Linked DNA regions of Homo sapiens: all the other regions are reported to be linked to region 2. Evidence: microRNA targets listed by miRTarBase, many of them from high-throughput screens and not tested one by one. Region 2 holds a microRNA gene; each other region holds the end of a gene's coding sequence.

Evidence for each region. Region 2 holds the annotated microRNA hsa-miR-1245a (AAGUGAUCUAAAGGCCUACAU, at 1,058-1,078, opposite strand). A microRNA usually pairs through its seed, bases 2 to 8, with sites in the 3' UTR of a target mRNA and lowers its output. Matches are read on the target gene's strand: a 7mer-m8 pairs with bases 2 to 8, a 7mer-A1 pairs with bases 2 to 7 and ends in A, and an 8mer does both.
Region 1: miRTarBase lists RICTOR as a target of hsa-miR-1245a. Seed matches in the 3' UTR shown: 7mer-A1 at 2,311-2,317.
Region 3: the mRNA of BRCA2 is a reported target of hsa-miR-1245a. Seed matches in the 3' UTR shown: 8mer at 3,307-3,314.
Region 4: miRTarBase lists ZNF432 as a target of hsa-miR-1245a. Seed matches in the 3' UTR shown: 7mer-m8 at 1,761-1,767.

The regions. Positions count from the first base shown.
Region 1 is chr5:38,938,542-38,942,541 of GRCh38, reverse strand. It overlaps RICTOR (RPTOR independent companion of MTOR complex 2), which reads left to right. Exons shown (of 38, transcript NM_152756.5): 38 at 164-4,000. The coding sequence ends at 238. It also overlaps a transcript of OSMR not described here. Among named protein-coding and RNA genes, the nearest start is that of OSMR, 95 kb to the right of the region's middle.
Region 2 is chr2:188,975,059-188,979,213 of GRCh38, reverse strand. It overlaps MIR1245A (microRNA 1245a), which reads right to left and starts at 1,122; the gene lies at 1,053-1,122. All of the region lies in intron 1 of COL3A1 (collagen type III alpha 1 chain), which reads right to left. MIR1245B (microRNA 1245b) reads left to right here and starts at 1,053; the gene lies at 1,053-1,121. All of the region lies in intron 1 of LOC105373791 (a long non-coding RNA gene), which reads left to right.
Region 3 is chr13:32,398,500-32,402,499 of GRCh38, reverse strand. It overlaps BRCA2 (BRCA2 DNA repair associated), which reads right to left. Exons shown (of 27, transcript NM_000059.4): 27 at 2,232-4,000. The coding sequence ends at 3,730. It overlaps N4BP2L1 (NEDD4 binding protein 2 like 1), which reads left to right. Exons shown (of 5, transcript NM_052818.3): 5 at 1-1,777. Among named protein-coding and RNA genes, the nearest start is that of N4BP2L1, 28 kb to the left of the region's middle.
Region 4 is chr19:52,030,438-52,034,437 of GRCh38, reverse strand. ZNF432 (zinc finger protein 432) reads left to right here. Exons shown (of 5, transcript NM_014650.4): 5 at 1-3,060. The coding sequence ends at 718. Among named protein-coding and RNA genes, the nearest start is that of ZNF614, 4.1 kb to the right of the region's middle.

The DNA of each region.
Region 1 (4,000 bases), not on the chromosome of region 2:
GACTCAGAGGTTGCAATGAACAAAGATGGCAACATTGTGCTGCATCCTGGGAAGACTGAGCAAGACCCTATCTCAAAAAAAAAAAAAAATTAGATATTTATATAAATATGTTATATCATCTGTTTTTATAAAAGTAATTGATGATACACCATTTTTTCCCTAGATGCATGAAGAAGCAGAGGCTGTGTTGGCAACACCACCAAAGCAACCTATAGTTGATACATCTGCTGAATCCTGACCTCATATTTATGATGGATATAGATACATACTATATATATTCATATTTGTGGATTTCCTAAAAGCCTCAGAAAATACGACTGACTAGGCAGCAAAGACAGGAGTATCTTCTGTACACTGTTCCGCAGTTACTGGTACATGAACAGTTGGAACTGCTGACTTTCCTAACCAAAACAACTTCCTTCTCTCCTTTGTTGAGCCTTTTGAGGGGTTCATGATTCATTACCACAGTTTTAAGAGTTTCAGTTACCATTGTATGCAAGAGCCAAGCACTGAATACCTACATAGGTTTTCTATTTTCTTTCATTTTAAAAGCATAATGACAGTGGAACAATAATGGGATATGCAGAAGCACCCTTCACAAGTTATTTCTGAATGATTTTTAGGGTAAATAATACAGATGCCTTGTTTGTTAACTAACTTGTGGAAAGCAGGAATCAGTGTCTCTAAGGCTGCATCCTATTACCACAATGGGGTGTGCTATAACTGCTGGTATTAGAGAGGGAACTTTGGCCCTTTCACGTTTTTCTTAATGTTTGTAACACTACTTCAGAGGTTTATAACCTCAAAGCAGAAGAAGAGCCTCAACAACCCGGGACTTATAAGTTATTTTTATGTTACTAGACTTGCATAAAGATTCTTGTTTTCCAACTCTTCATTTTGTTGCAATGTGTTATTACAGGATATATGAACCAATTAAGGTTTTTCACTACAGTTCTTGAATAAAATTTAAAAATCATTTTTTATTTTAATTAAAAATATTTCCCATTTATAGAATGCATATATTTGCAATGGACTTCCACTTTCATCAACTTTCCATCTCATCGCTTTAAACAGGAACTTGAACAAGCACTGTTAGTTTAGACCTAAAGGATAGGAAAGCATTAAATAATACTTTGGATCTCCTGAGGAAAAGATAAGTTTGCTTGCAATTTACACATTCCATGGGGAAAGAAGAGCCATATTTCCTTAAAAAAAACATTAATAAAGCTTGTTATTGAGAAAAATTGTAGTGAAAAGCCTTAAGTACCAAATTTTAAAGCAGCAGTAACTTAATTTTTATATCAGTGTTTTTGTTTTGCACAAACTAAATGCAGTGGTAGGTGGGTTTATGAGTATATTAATTGCCTTTATCCATTTGTGAAGTTAAGTTGATGAGGGCAAGGTTTTTGTTTGTTTAATTTGTATATGTCTAAAGGTATTTGGAACTTTTTACAGGAATTAAACATATATGCAAATTTGTATATAAAAATAGCATGGCCATCATTTGAATGCTTGTAAATGAAAGGATTATCTTTTTTGAGATCTATATATAAATAGAAATAGAAAATCCAGCTGGACTGATTAGGATTCTTTTTTAATTCATTTGTGTATAACATTTTTATTACAATTACACATCAGTTTTGACACAGTCATAGCAACATTAATATTTTCCCATGATGCAGATCCTTTTTGTAATGGGCTTGTTCTTTGAGATCTCTGTAAAGAACCCTGTGAACTAGAAAACATAACTCACAGAGATACTTTTTTAAAAAATTTATTTACTGGAACTGAAAGTTCCAGTTGGGATGAAGCATTTCATCTCACTTCATAACACCTCTTTGACTGCACTTCAGTGAATTGTTCTTATGTGCACTGTGTAGCAACTTACATTATAACAAAGCAGATAAGGGCTGTAAGCTGCTGCTTATGTTGAAAAGTGGTTCTTCAGATTTTCTCTCATAAAATCCAGTTGAAGATAAATAATTTTTTTATACTTTATCACTGAACCCAAGTGTTTATTTAAATGTCAACAGTACTTCTAAGAACGTTGCCTGTCATCGTGGTCTTTGGTCTTGGATAACTAAACTGCCTTTCCAGAGAACCAAATGTCAGAGTTACTAGACCAAATAGTGGTTAAAACCTCCAAAGGAAGTAATGTAATCTTATTCATAATGGGATTAACATATTTTAGACATTCATTTTAAACACTACCTCAGTTAATATAGAGTATAAAAATCTGTGGTTTAATCCCTCAAAAGTTAACAGTAATTTTTTTTTTGTCTTACACACACACACACCCCCTCCCCCACCATCACTATCCCTGTACCCTCACCTTGGTCATCTATCCTGAAATAAGGCTTAGTTAGTATTGGCCTGAATGTTTTGTGTTTTTTTTTTTGTTTTTTTTTTTTACTGTTACTTTGAAAAATATGTATGTATACCTTATCATATCTGCCTATATCACTTACTTTGGGGAGATACTCAGAGCTTTGTGGTTATCAGTATACTAAAAAAAAAAAAAAGTCTACGCTTAAATTTATAGTGCTATTTGGTTTCTCCATGATTTCACTGACAGGTCTAATACATTTTCTTTGAGTACTTGTTTGTAAAAAGTAGACTTTATGGTGAAAAATACATGCAGTGCCAAGTGATTAACTTAAGTGTTTAAAAATATTAAATTATAGCAGAAGAGGTTAGGAATGATATCAGCAGTAATAGAAATAATTGAGAAAATCATCTATAAATAATAGATATTACAGACTATAGAATACCAAAATAATGTCAATACTGTAGTTTTTAAAGATTTTAGGATTAATCTTAGTCCATATAAATTTGTACTATTGGTAATTATTGAATAATTGGGAGGAATCTGGGCAGTTGTGCTGGTTGTAAACTATGAATTTCTAATCGTAAAGTGAATTGTTATTTCTAATTGAACTTTTTTTCAAGAACAGATTTCAGCCTCACATACTAAGTAAATACTGATAAATAAGGAAATTAGAAATTTAGTATTCATAATTAAATATGCTCTAAAATTTCCTATACTTTTATTTCCTGTTTATTCTTAGGTAGATTGGAAGGGGGAAACAGTCTGTTCTCCCTAATTAAATTTTTTCTAATAACGATTAGTAGAATATGGACATTCTATATGACAGTGACATTAAAAGAGGCTCTTTGGAAGTATATACATTATTAACATAATGTGTACAAGTCCTTTTGAAATGACAACTTTAATGGGTTTCAGCTCTTTTATCTAGAGCTTGAGATAATTCAAGCTGAGTTTTTCAGGGCATATCACAACGGCCAAGTGTTCAGCAGTGGGATATCAATGCTTATTTACATTTTCCTACTGCTATTTATATAAAATGTTATTCCATTCAGAGGATGCCTTTTATCCCCACATTAAAGCACAGATCATTAAGCAATAAAAACCAAATTGTCTGTCATTCAAATTATAACTGCAGTTATTTTTGCATGGTAAGAGTGAGGTGCTAATTTTGTGTGAGATGAACTTTGTAAACTACTTTGGGAAATGTTCTTTGGAAGTAAGGTTTTTTCTCCTTTAGTCTTATGCTTCCACTTTTGTCTCAGATTCACAATCCATTAAAACATGGGGAAAAAAGAAAAGGTAAAATTGAGAGACTTTTGTTAGAGGAGCTATTTGGAATGAACCAACATTTCAGATTTTCCAAAATGTAAGTTAGGAAGTCTCCATTGTCTCTGCATTAACAAAATACACTGTTACTATCTTAATCTCAAGAGTGTCATTACAGTGAGAATCTCATTTAAAAGCATACCAGTGAAATTAATAGCAGTGCTTATCAAAGAACACTGAAATCTGTGAGAATCTTTCTAGGAGCATTCTTTTCTTCTTTTAGTTCCAAGTTCCAGGGTATTTTTCATTCCTAGTAGGTTTATATGACTCACAGAATGTGGACTTTTTTCCTGTTTGGAGTATTTTTGTAATGTAAGTATCGGATAGCTGCACCACAGCATGCAT
Region 2 (4,155 bases):
TAGAAAAACAGTTTCAGAAAAATATATGCCATTTTACTGAAGCAGTACTTTCTTAATACTAGAATTCAAGGGAAGTTTAACTTTTAATAATTTCTGGATCTTTTCTCTTTGATGTTTACATCTTTTGGGCATTTTGACTCGTCCTCTTTCAACGTTTCATTTTGTTCATTAAGACTACATTTTAAACAGCAGTGCTTGACCTCAGTCATGGAAAAAAACAAGGGTTTTATTAGTTAATCTGAAAGGAATCCACTTCTGCTGTGTTTTCATTAGACACAGACTGAAACTCTGGTGGTTAATGTAACTCCCCCAACTGCAGTTCACAAATGATTTATGTAAGAATAGCTATCTCATTTTTTCCGTTGTCATCTTGACATGAAACAGGCAAAGTTTCCCCTTTGAAAAGTCTGGAGAGTTTTTTTTTACACTATATGATCTTTTTTTTTTTTTTTTTTTTGAGTGTGGAAACAATGGGATTGAGCTTTTATCTTAGGGAAAACTTTTACAAGAAACAGTTCACTGAGAGGGTTCCAGAAAGTTATTGTAGACCTGGAAACTTTACAACTGTTCCTCATGTCCAGCAAAAGCAATAACATCTTTCATCTTTAAAGCTTTAATTCTTTAAGCAATCTACTTTAATCACTTCAAGGCGGTGATATCATTAGATGTTACAAAATTAAAGAGCTGGGCTACATAATTTTTGGAACTCTGCACCAAAGAAGCCATTCACAATGGAAACTGTGGAGTTTCGGTAGATGGCACTCTTTTCTCTGAGTGACAACTCAAGGTCCAGCATGTGACCGTAGATGTAGAACAGGGGCTTTCCTGAGGAGCTGTCCTTTAGCCTCAACTATAATCCTGGTAAACTCACAGCCAATCATTCTTGATTTTTAAAAAGAAGCCTGTAGATAAGACATCAATCCAGGAATCTGAAGTAGTTAAGAGGCATTTAATCACAGTCTTTCCTTCTTTCCCAGAATTGTTCCAGTGGATTTGCTTTCTTTTCTTGTAATGCTGAAATGTTTAATTCCAGAATTTAATAAAAATACCTTTTTATATGTAGGCCTTTAGATCACTTAAAGAGTATTCAACATCAGATGATCTAAAGGCCTATACATAAATAGGTAGTTTTGAAAATCCAAATTTTTCAAGGCTCTGTTATTACCTGAGCATTTTTCTTTCCCTAGAAAAAAAGCTCAGGTAAGTAAATACAAGGTATCATGGATGAAAAACACAAAGTGTTATAATACTTTATTTACTCACACAGAACTGGTGATAATTTCTTTTAAAATGATAAGATCCTGAGCTTCTGGGGTTTAAAAAAATTAACGTACTACTCTCTATAAAATTGAATATTAAACAGAAAAATACCTATTCTTTTTTCACCTTTAGAAATGCATTATTAGTTCATGTACTTTCTAGGACGATATATAATTTTTTTAGTATCTCCTTTCAATGACAAATAGTTACAAAATTAAGAAAATTCAAATATCTGATTTTAATGTGTATTCTATAATTATCTAAGACTGAACAGAATATTGGTCCTAGCCTTGACTCCGTCATTTTCTAGTTTTGTAATCTCAAATAAAGCACTGATCCATGTTAGGTGACTGACACTGAGATATGTGAGCAACTATGCATTCTCTCCCTTTAAAAGTGCAATTGTTCCTAAATGTATGTAACCTTTTCCTGTTAGTTCAGTGTGTTTAATTGTAGGGACAAACACAAACCAGAAAACTTGAATGTTACCTGAGCAAGTTACAAATTCCCTCTTAAAGCATAATGAAAAAAATATACTCTCATGACGTCTAATAAGAAACTGATTCTCTGAGTCCATTTACAGTTTTAAAATTCTAAAACAACTAGAGGCCTACAGTTTATTTTACTGGAATTATCACTGTAGCAAAATATAGAAACTCAAACATTAGTACACATTTAATTAAAATAAAGTTTCTGTTTCTGCCCTAATGGAGCAGTATTACTTAGTAACAGCTGTCTATAATCTATCTAACAATTAAGCAGTGAATAAAATACTTATGTCAAATAAGGACTACATCAGAGACATGAAAAATGTATTTAAACAATAGTCATATGTAGAATTTTTAAGTGGCCGTAACATTTAAGCTAATTTCCAAAAAGACTCTGAATATTGTTACCATTGTGTTTTCGTGTCAGTATATGTGTTTGCAATATTTATCCGTAACATACTAATTTCCTTAGGAGAGCAGTGTTAACATTTAAAATTCACGCATATGAATTTTTTAAAGCTCATTATAAACTACCAAAGCCAGCTACATAACATTAATATTGGCATTCGTTATGTAAATGGTAACCTGGCTTGTCAGCCACTAGGTGACGCATCTTTGTACTTAAAACTTGGCATGTTTATAATCTACAGGAAATATAAAACAGACTATGTTTCTCCATTGGTGGATTAAAACACATGAATTAAATACAATGTTCACAAATTTGTAAGACGACCAAAATTCTTTTTGAGGACTTGTTTGTATCCAGAAAATGCCTGTGAGTGAACTAGAAGTGAGTGTTCATTAGAGCTGTGCCGTCTCTGAAGTTATGAGGGCATATATAAGAAACCCCACCCCAGAACTTTATGACAGCTCTCAGTGTGCTGTATATTCAGATACCTCCTGTAACTTTTCCAAAGCTTATCTAATAGCAGAATTTCCTTGTAAAACCCACAGGGAACATAAGATGTACTGTCTTAAGTCACTTCAACTTTACTTTTACTCATGACAAAAAAAATAGGCTGAACAGTTCTCTTTCAACTCTTTTTGAGCTTAAGAACACACAAACACATATCAGCAAAATTTTATACTTATTGATTATTTTTTGCATCTAAAGAGAAAGAGGGAAATAAACAGAACTTAATGTGATGTCAAGGTACTGTAAGTGGCAAACACCCCCCCACTAAAGTTGGATTGGGAAGAAAAATAGCCACAGTGCTTATAAAAAGCTTGCAACCACGAGGCAACTACAAATATGTTGCAATTTTTTGAGCTAAAACCCCTAAGTTTGTAGTCTTTTCAATAAATGGTTGGTGGGGGATAGTAGTCATTTGGTATCCTAAAAAAGGACTGTGAGTTGTAGCATCTCCTGGGAAGAGCAGGATAGGGAGGAAAAGGGGAGAGGAATGAGAAAGGAAGAAGGATTGAGAGTTCAGGGGAAAGAAAGGGTGAGGAGGCAAGGAGAGAGAGAACTAAAAAAAAGAAATGGAGGCATAAGGAGGCCACATGGGGAGTAGGGAGGGAGTAACAGGCAGGGAAGACAGAGGAGGAGAGAGGAGTAGATATGGGCTTGCCTAGGAAGGGGTGGGGTGATGAGTGAAGAGAAGTCTAAAGGAGCCAAAAGGGGTGGAGAGAGATAAGGAGGAGGGCAAAGCGAAGGAGAGGAGGGGTAAGGAGGAGAGGAAATTAAGGGAACAAGGAAAATGGGTGTTTCTTTTCTTTTGTGTCCATGGGCTGAATATAACTGAAGACATTTCATTGTATATCTACCCCTCCCCTCATACACACATTTACATGTATTAGCTATGAGGACAACAAATACATTTGATATTACAAACAAAAACCAAATTTTCATGCAGTGTCCTTTGCAAAATCTATATGTTTAAATGTAACCATGTTTAGTTATGTGCAATAAAAATTGTCTAATAATTTCTCCTAGCTATCTTTACATTTAGCACTTAAATATTTATTTCTATGGAAGTTTGTATTCCAATTTGTTCAGCATTTTCATGACTATGGTAAATAAAAGAATATTTTCACATAAATAATGAGACAAATGTGTTTTTAGGGGAAATTAGAATATGAAAAACATTACATGCAATTATTAGAAAATATAGCAAAACAGCTTTCTGAAGTCAAACAGTACTAGTATCTTTACCTTGTTTGCAGCAAAGTCAAACCTCCTGTTGAAACATTTTAAAAAATATTTTCTTCATTAATGCGAATGTGGTTAAAACGTAGAATATGTGGAAAATATTAGTCCCTTAATATCAAGCTACTAGAAAAGATGAATTAATCAATCATTCTTGAAACAAAATAAAAACAGGAATAATAAAATATTTTAGCAGTTTGATCCCTTTGAAGAATGTTTATAGGTATCTTGTAGCCATTTTACAGAAATATATTCAAT
Region 3 (4,000 bases), not on the chromosome of region 2:
CCATTGCTACTTTGATAATCTATGTATCTAAAAATGTGAGATGTGCGACTCTTATGATACTGATTTTCCTTTAATGTTAATATGCCAGAAAGCATACATCTAAGGGAACATTGTCCTTCAAAGTAGACACTTTGGGAAGTTATTTCTTTATTTTAATGATGTATCATTGTTAAAAATGCTGTCAAATCCTTAATAGCTACAGGAGCTACTGAGGGAAATCAGTGTCATTATTTAAAGTCACGCCTTGTGTTTTTACTACTTTATTCAGCAGGATTAAACCTGAATAACTTTTGGCTGTTGTGCTAATAGTGTAAATAAAATAAGCCTGCCTTCATAAAACACTAACTTTTAAAAGGAATAAACGACTTCTAAAATTATGCCTATTAACATGTGTAATTAGTCGGCAGCTCAAATGTTTGGGAGTGCAAGAAATTAGGCACCCCAGGATATAGGTCATACAGGGATATATAAAAGCCATGCTCATTACAAAATGAGCAGTTGATGTTTTATGTGGCATTAAGACAATCAAGTCCTCACAACTCTGGAATGTCTTCTTATACTGATGCTGAATTTATGAATCCAAATTAATTTCCAACAGGTTGGAATCAGATTTAATGTGAGATCATGATAGACAAGACCACAGAGGACGTATGCTCTATTTCTTGTTGGCCAACAGCTTCTTTCTAATGTTCTGTGAAAAATTATTTTAAGTGTCTTATATAATGGTGCTTTTATGGTTATTAAAAATTGTAAATGGTATCACATTTATATGGATTTGTCATTGGATCTTTTTTTGGTTCAACAATAAAAAAATTTAATTACCTAAATGCCAAGAAACTCAACAATATACCAGTTTTTCTGTATCACAGGCTTATTTACCAGTCTTTTTTTTAATAAATAGGAATCGTAAAGGTAATGACAAAAGCAGCCTTATAATTTAGTTGCTTATATATTTGATCTGTGTACATGAGACTGTTTTAACGTTATCTGACACTACTGAAACCTGCTCGACATCTCCATGACTACCAACACCATGTGTAATGTTTTCTTCACTAACATTTTAAAAACTGGTATCTCCTTTGAGTAAGTTTGGCTGACAATAGTAAATCCCAATGAATCTAAGGTGTTATCAGCTTTGCTAACTTCTGTATCTCCAAGCACAACATAAAATAATCTCCTAATGATCTACTTAATAATGCTCCCATTTTCCAGGCCCAGGTAGTCCTGGGTATCTTGGTTGATAGGGTGGTGGCATAACCAGCTCAATATGGATGGCTTGACTCGTCTGGGCTGGTAGAGGGGAGAAATGTCAGAGAGCTCAAAGTGGAAATTACCATCCTTTGATTTCACATGAGCGGTTCAAAGGACCAGATTCAAGCCCTCCTGACTTGGCTGGCTCCCTGCTTTAGGGTTTTTGGCTCACTTGGGTTAAGTGAGTGACCACTATGGAGAAGTGGCTCTGGGTTACATAACTTTTCTAGAGCTCTAAAGAATAGTTTCCTGGCCTATTTAATGTCTCTTCTTTCCCTAGCTGACCCCTGAAATATTTGGTTTGTAAACCATAAAAATTGATTAAATGCCATCAACTTTATCCCCTGTAGAAGTGATCTGTTTTTCAACTCCCATGGCTTCTGATTTGTGTAACTCTTTGAACACCCAATATTGACTTGTATTGTGTTCGCTGTTTGCATCATTCATAGAACTGGCAAATGCTCTTTATGGGCAATAGGGTCTCATTAAATGATTGCTGAATAAATAACACAAATTTTTACCATTATCCCTTATGATGCAGTATGTTGACTTTGTAGTCATTAAATTGTCACTTTTGAGGGGATAATATGCACATATACTCAAGCTTCATATTTTGTTTCATGTAGCTTGGATGTTATTTATAATTTATAAAAAAGTGTGCGCATTACATATCTATCAACATAATGGGTGTTCTACATGAGAACAGACAATAGCAGTTGTACCAAGGATTCAAAAAAGAAAAGGTTAAATTCTTGTAATTTTTTCTGTTCTCCTGTTTGAAACCCAAGTTTTATTCCTTGTTCTAGAGTGGATCACTGCAAAATTAGGATGTGAAAACCAAACTGTTTTAGAAACAAAACAAGTCTCATTAATAAGACTTGCAGAATACTTAAGTTACAGGGAGTAGCAAAATAGACAATTTTGTTAATGCTTTTTACAGAACAGAAAAATCATGGCTCAGAGTTATGGAAGGAAACAAGTCAATTTTTTAAAAGATTTATTCTTGGCTTTAAACGTATTTATAATTAGATTTGAAAACATGATATTATACAGACATTTAAGGCATTAAAACATCTGATTTAAGACCTTCTCCATGCAATTAACTCCCAGTTAGAAATGTTTTATCCCTTTTCTCTATTAAACCTAAGAAAGTAACAAATATTGGCCGGGCACAGTGGCTCACGCCTATAATCCCAGCACTTTGGGAGGCTGAGGCAGATGGATCACCTGACATCAGGAGTTTGAGACCAGCTTGGCCAACATGGTAAAACCCAGTCTCTACTAAAAATGCAAAAATTAGCTGGGCATGGTGGTGCGTCCCTGTAATCCCAGCTACTAGGGAGGCTTGAGGTGGGAGAATTACGTGAACCCGGGAAGTGGAGGCTGCAGTGAGCCAGGATCATGCCACTGCACTCCAGCATGGGCGACAAAGCAAGACTCCATCTCCAAAAAAAAAAAAAAAGGACGTAACAAATGAGAGTATCATCTTAAATTGAATTAATCTTCTGCTTTTGTGGTAAGTTTAAAAGGGCATAGGCTCTGGGTCCTGTGATAGCGCTAAAAATAAAGCAGGCAGAATCAGTGCCAATTTGAAAGCAAGATATTTTCTCAAGTTTGAGTTTGGATGACCATTTTGTTGAAAAAAAAAATAAATTAACTATGAAATCTTCTGATTTAAAGTATTTGAATTTTTAGTTGAAGTAATTTAATTTCAGAGATCACACTGGAATAGTAAAAAGGAATTAGAGTTACACTGAGGGTTCTATTTTTCTTATAATCATGCTGACTTAAGGATGAAGAATTGCTCAAAAGGAAACACCACTCTTCATATTCATCCTGACTTTTGAACAGGATGGAACTATAGCAGAACCAACATATTTGCATTAAGGAGAACTATTTCATAGTGAGTTACCTCTAAAAAAAATCCCCTAAAATAGTAGCTAAACTAAAAGGAATTATCTGCATCAAAATAACTGTACTAAGAGACCTCATTCCATTTAATGACACAATCTAAAAGAAAATGGTATGTTTATTTCACTTGTAAAATAATACTTGTAGTGATCAAATCCAAAGATTTAAAAGATTTTCTTTTCCCCTTTTTTTTTTCTTTGTAAAGATGGGGGTCTCCCTATGTTGCCCAGGCTGGTCTTGAACTCCTGGCCTCAAGCACTCCTCCCACCTCAGCTTCTCAAAGTGTTGGGATTACAGGCATGAGCCACCGAGCTCAGCCAAAGATGTTTTTCTTGATTAGTTAATAAATTACATTTAGTTTTAAGATATGCAACTGAAGCAAAAGTATACCAATACGGAATCGGGCAAAACGATTTTTGCCCGATACACAAACGCTGAGGTAAATTTGAAACTAATTTCTTTTCTCATTGTGCAACATAAGTACTAATGTGTGGTTTGAAATTATATTCCAGTCTTATAAACTGGAAAGGTTAAGCGTCAATAATTTATTGTCGCCTTTGCAAATGCTTAGATATATTTTTTAGTTGTAATTGTGTCCTGCTTATTTTTCTCACATTCTTCCGTACTGGCCTGGGAACTCTCCTGTTCTTTGATCAGAGATGTAGTACAACGTCGTTTCAGTCTGAGATAATCTTCTGAACTGGTGGGAGCAGTCCTAGTGGATTCACTGACAGATATAAATTGTTTTTCTCCTGTTGAACCAGACAAAAGAGCTTGGGTATTTATCAATGCAAGTTCTTCGTCAGCTATTGAATTACTTTCCAAAAGAGAAATTTCA
Region 4 (4,000 bases), not on the chromosome of region 2:
TAATCTTATTGTACATCAGAGAAATCATACAGTAGAGAAGTCATATCTATGTAGTGAATGTGGAAAAGGTTTTACTGTGAAAAGCATGCTCATCATACATCAGCGAACTCATACAGGAGAGAAGCCCTACACATGCAGTGAATGTGGGAAAGGCTTCCCCTTGAAGAGTCGGCTGATTGTACATCAGCGAACTCATACTGGAGAGAAACCTTACAGGTGCAGTGAATGTGGGAAAGGTTTCATTGTGAATAGCGGACTGATGTTACATCAGCGAACTCATACTGGAGAGAAACCGTACATATGCAATGAATGTGGAAAAGGTTTTGCCTTTAAGAGCAATCTTGTTGTACACCAGCGAACTCATACTGGAGAGAAACCCTTTATGTGCAGTGAATGTGGAAAAGGCTTCACCATGAAACGCTATCTCATTGTACATCAGCAAATTCATACAGAAGAGAAATCTTGTATATGTAGTGAATGTGGAAGAGGCTTTGCCAAGGAAACAGAGCTTGCTTTACATAAGCAAGTTCATACTGGAGAAAAACCTTATGGATGTAATGAATGTGGTAAAGGCTTCACTATGAAGAGCCGTCTAATTGTTCATCAACGAACTCATACAGGAGAGAAACCCTTTGTATGCAGTGAATGTAGAAAAGCCTTCTCCTCAAAGAGAAATCTCATTGTACATCAGCGAACTCATAATGGAAACAAACCCTGACAATGCAGTGGACATGTTCATGCCTTTGGGAAGAAAATCTGCCTTGTACAACATCAGAGATTTCACAGTATAGATTTTCTACATGTGTACTGAGTATGAAAAATCATATTTCAAAATCCAGTGTTATTCACTAGGATGAATGCTATCAATGTCAGAAAGGCTTCAACATGAATTCAGGCTCTGAATTCTTTGATGTACCAATGTATAGAAAATTACTCATCTGAGAGAGAGTCTGTGGATTGGGGGTAACCTTTCATTTGTCAACCTTCATTAAAACTATGACAACGTCCACATGACAAATGTGTAAGGTACATAGTCCTTTTGCAGAGAATCTGAACTGATTACATACAAACAAATTCATGCAGAGAGAAAACCACGTTAGTAATGTGAACTGATTAAACAGCAGTGTGCTCCTAGCATACATGCATATAGGCAGTGTAGAGCAGCCTGTTGCTAGATTTTCACCCTTGGAAGACAATGCAATTTCCAGGAGCGAATTTTAATGAATGCAGAGAATGCACTAGTGCCTTCGGTGATTAATTACCTCATATTTTATGTCACAATAAACATGTAGGAAATAAACTTGATACATCCAATGCAGAAAAGTCTTGAAAATTTTCTAAGTAACTATGTCTTGAAAAGTATTTACTGAGATAAATCTTACAAAGGAGTAGGCTAGGAAAGCCTTCTATGGGAAGAAAGACCCTATCTCTTCAGTGATCATAATAGATCATCAATGAACTTACACATACTAGCAGCATTATCATGGGAAAGCCTTTGCCCAGAAATAAAACCTTAACAGTTGGCAGATATATTTCATACTGGAGAACAAGTTTCAGATGGCAGTGAATACACGAGGATTTCAGTGATACATGCTGCCTCATCATCATTACTTCATACAGAAATAAAACTTATATGAAGAGTAACTTTAAAAAGGATCAGGAAATTCATGAAGTAAAAAAGTCTCATGAAAATGATACATAATGCCGGGCATGGTGGCTTGCACCTGTAATCCCAGCACTTTGGGAGGCCAAGGTGGGTGGATCACTTGAGGTCGGGAGTTCGAGACCAGCCTGACCAACATGGTGAAGCCCCCCTCTCTACTAAAAATACAAAATTAGCCGAGCATGGTGGCTCACGCTTGTAATCCCAGCTACTCTGGAGGCTAAGCTGGAGAATCACTTGAACCTGGGAGGCAGAGGTTTCAGTGAGCCAAGATTGCGCCATTGCATTCCAGCCTGGGCAACAAGAGCGAAACTCTGCCTCAAAAAAAAAAAAAAAAAACCATATTTGAGGACTGTCACAAATCTAAACTCATGATACACTTGATATCTATTCTGTGACAGCATACCTTGCATCATATTATCAATGATTCCATAATTGTAAAGCGGGCTGTTCTTATCACTGATTAAATTTTAATCCTATATATAACACAGGTGTTTTCTGTGCCAATCTGGTGTTATTTATTAGTTCTTACATATTATAGGCCCCAAATTTATTTTTTTCAATTTACTGATAAATGTAATTCAGTATATTTGGATGTGTTTATCCAAGTTACTAGGTACCATTATGTAGTTTACAAAAATGCCTTAAATGTTATTTTTCTAAAATTTGTTTTGAAATAATTCTAGATTCACAAGAGATTACAAAATATACAAAAGTTTCCTGAGTATTCTTTGCTTAGCATCATCAATGTTATCTTACATAACCATAATAATAAAAACCACGGAGTTCTGCTCTTGTTGCCCAGGTTGGAGTGTAATAGCACGATCTTGGCTCACTGCAACCCCGCCTCCCAGGTTCAAGAGATTTTCCTGCCTCAGCCTCCTAAGTAGCTGGGATTACAGGCACCCACGACCACGCTCGACTAATTTTTGTATTTTTAGTAGAGACGGGGTTTCACTGTGTTGGCCAGGCTGGCCTTGAACTCTCGACCCCGGGCGGTCCACCCGCCTCAGCCTCCCAAAGTGCTGGGATTACAGGCATGAGCCACCACGCCTGGCCTCCTCTTGCTACCTCTTTATACTCACACTGTCCTCCCAATATGACCCATGGTAGCCACTGATCCCATTACCCTAATTTTGTTATTTCAAGAATGCTATTAAAATGGAATCGTAAGGTACGCAAGCTTTGAGATAGGGCTTTGTTCACTCAGCAAATTACCCTTAAGATCTATCCAAGTTGTTAGGTGTCTAAATAGTTTTAATTTTTGTTACTGAGTTAGTATTCTTTTAAATGGATGCACCAGGGTTTGTGTATCCATTCACTGTTGATGGACATTTGGGTTGTTTCCAGTGTTTTGCTGTTATAAATAAAGATGCTGTGACTATTTGTGTACCCGATATTGTGCGAACGTTAAGTTTTTATATATTTGGGATAGACACTGGGGGCATGACTGCTGGCGAATATGGTAAATGTGTTTAACTTTATAAGAAATGGCCAAACTCTTTCCCAGAGTGGCTGTACTAGTTTACATTCCCACCACCAATGTGTAAGCATTCCATGCCCTTTCTAGCTCTTGGCATTGCCAGTGTGCTTTAGCTTTCCTATTAGGTGTGTGGTGGTATATGATCATGGCCTCAACTTACACACCCCTAACACAAAATGATATTAAGCATCTCTACATCCACTGAGAACCATATCAAGTAAAATTGTAACTTTTGCTTCCAACCAGCAAACCCAATGTTTAAAACTCAAAAGAATATTATATTTTATAATATATTTACCCTTTCTGTTCCTTTTTCTTCATTCCTGATGTAATATTTCCTTTAGTTATTTCCTTTTTGTGCGAACTTCCTTAATCATTTCTCTTTGAGCAGGCCTGGTGGCAAAAAATTATTAGTTTCCCTAGAAACAGGGTTCCTGTTTTCTCTATCCAGAGTTATTTCCCTTGATCTAATGAGATTTAATCCAGTTTATAAATGGTGAGTTCTCTTTATAAAAGTAATAGACATTTGCCATATAGTATTGTGGCAGAATTCAATCCCTGACTCCATATTGAGTAATTTACTTCTTTGAAAATATTTTTTGAGCTTCTACACCATGGCAGGCATGTTGTAGGCAATGGAGACACATCAATGAACAAAACAGGCAAAGTGCTGGCTTTGATATGACATACAGTCTGGTGAAGGAGACTGAGTAAGATAAATACAAAATCGAATTCAGTTAAGTGCTAGGAAGAAATATAAAGCCTGGTAAGTTCATAGATTGTAACCTGAGTTATTTTAGGAAGAGTTTTCAGGATAGGCTTTTCTGTGCAGATATAATTTGAACCAAAGCCTA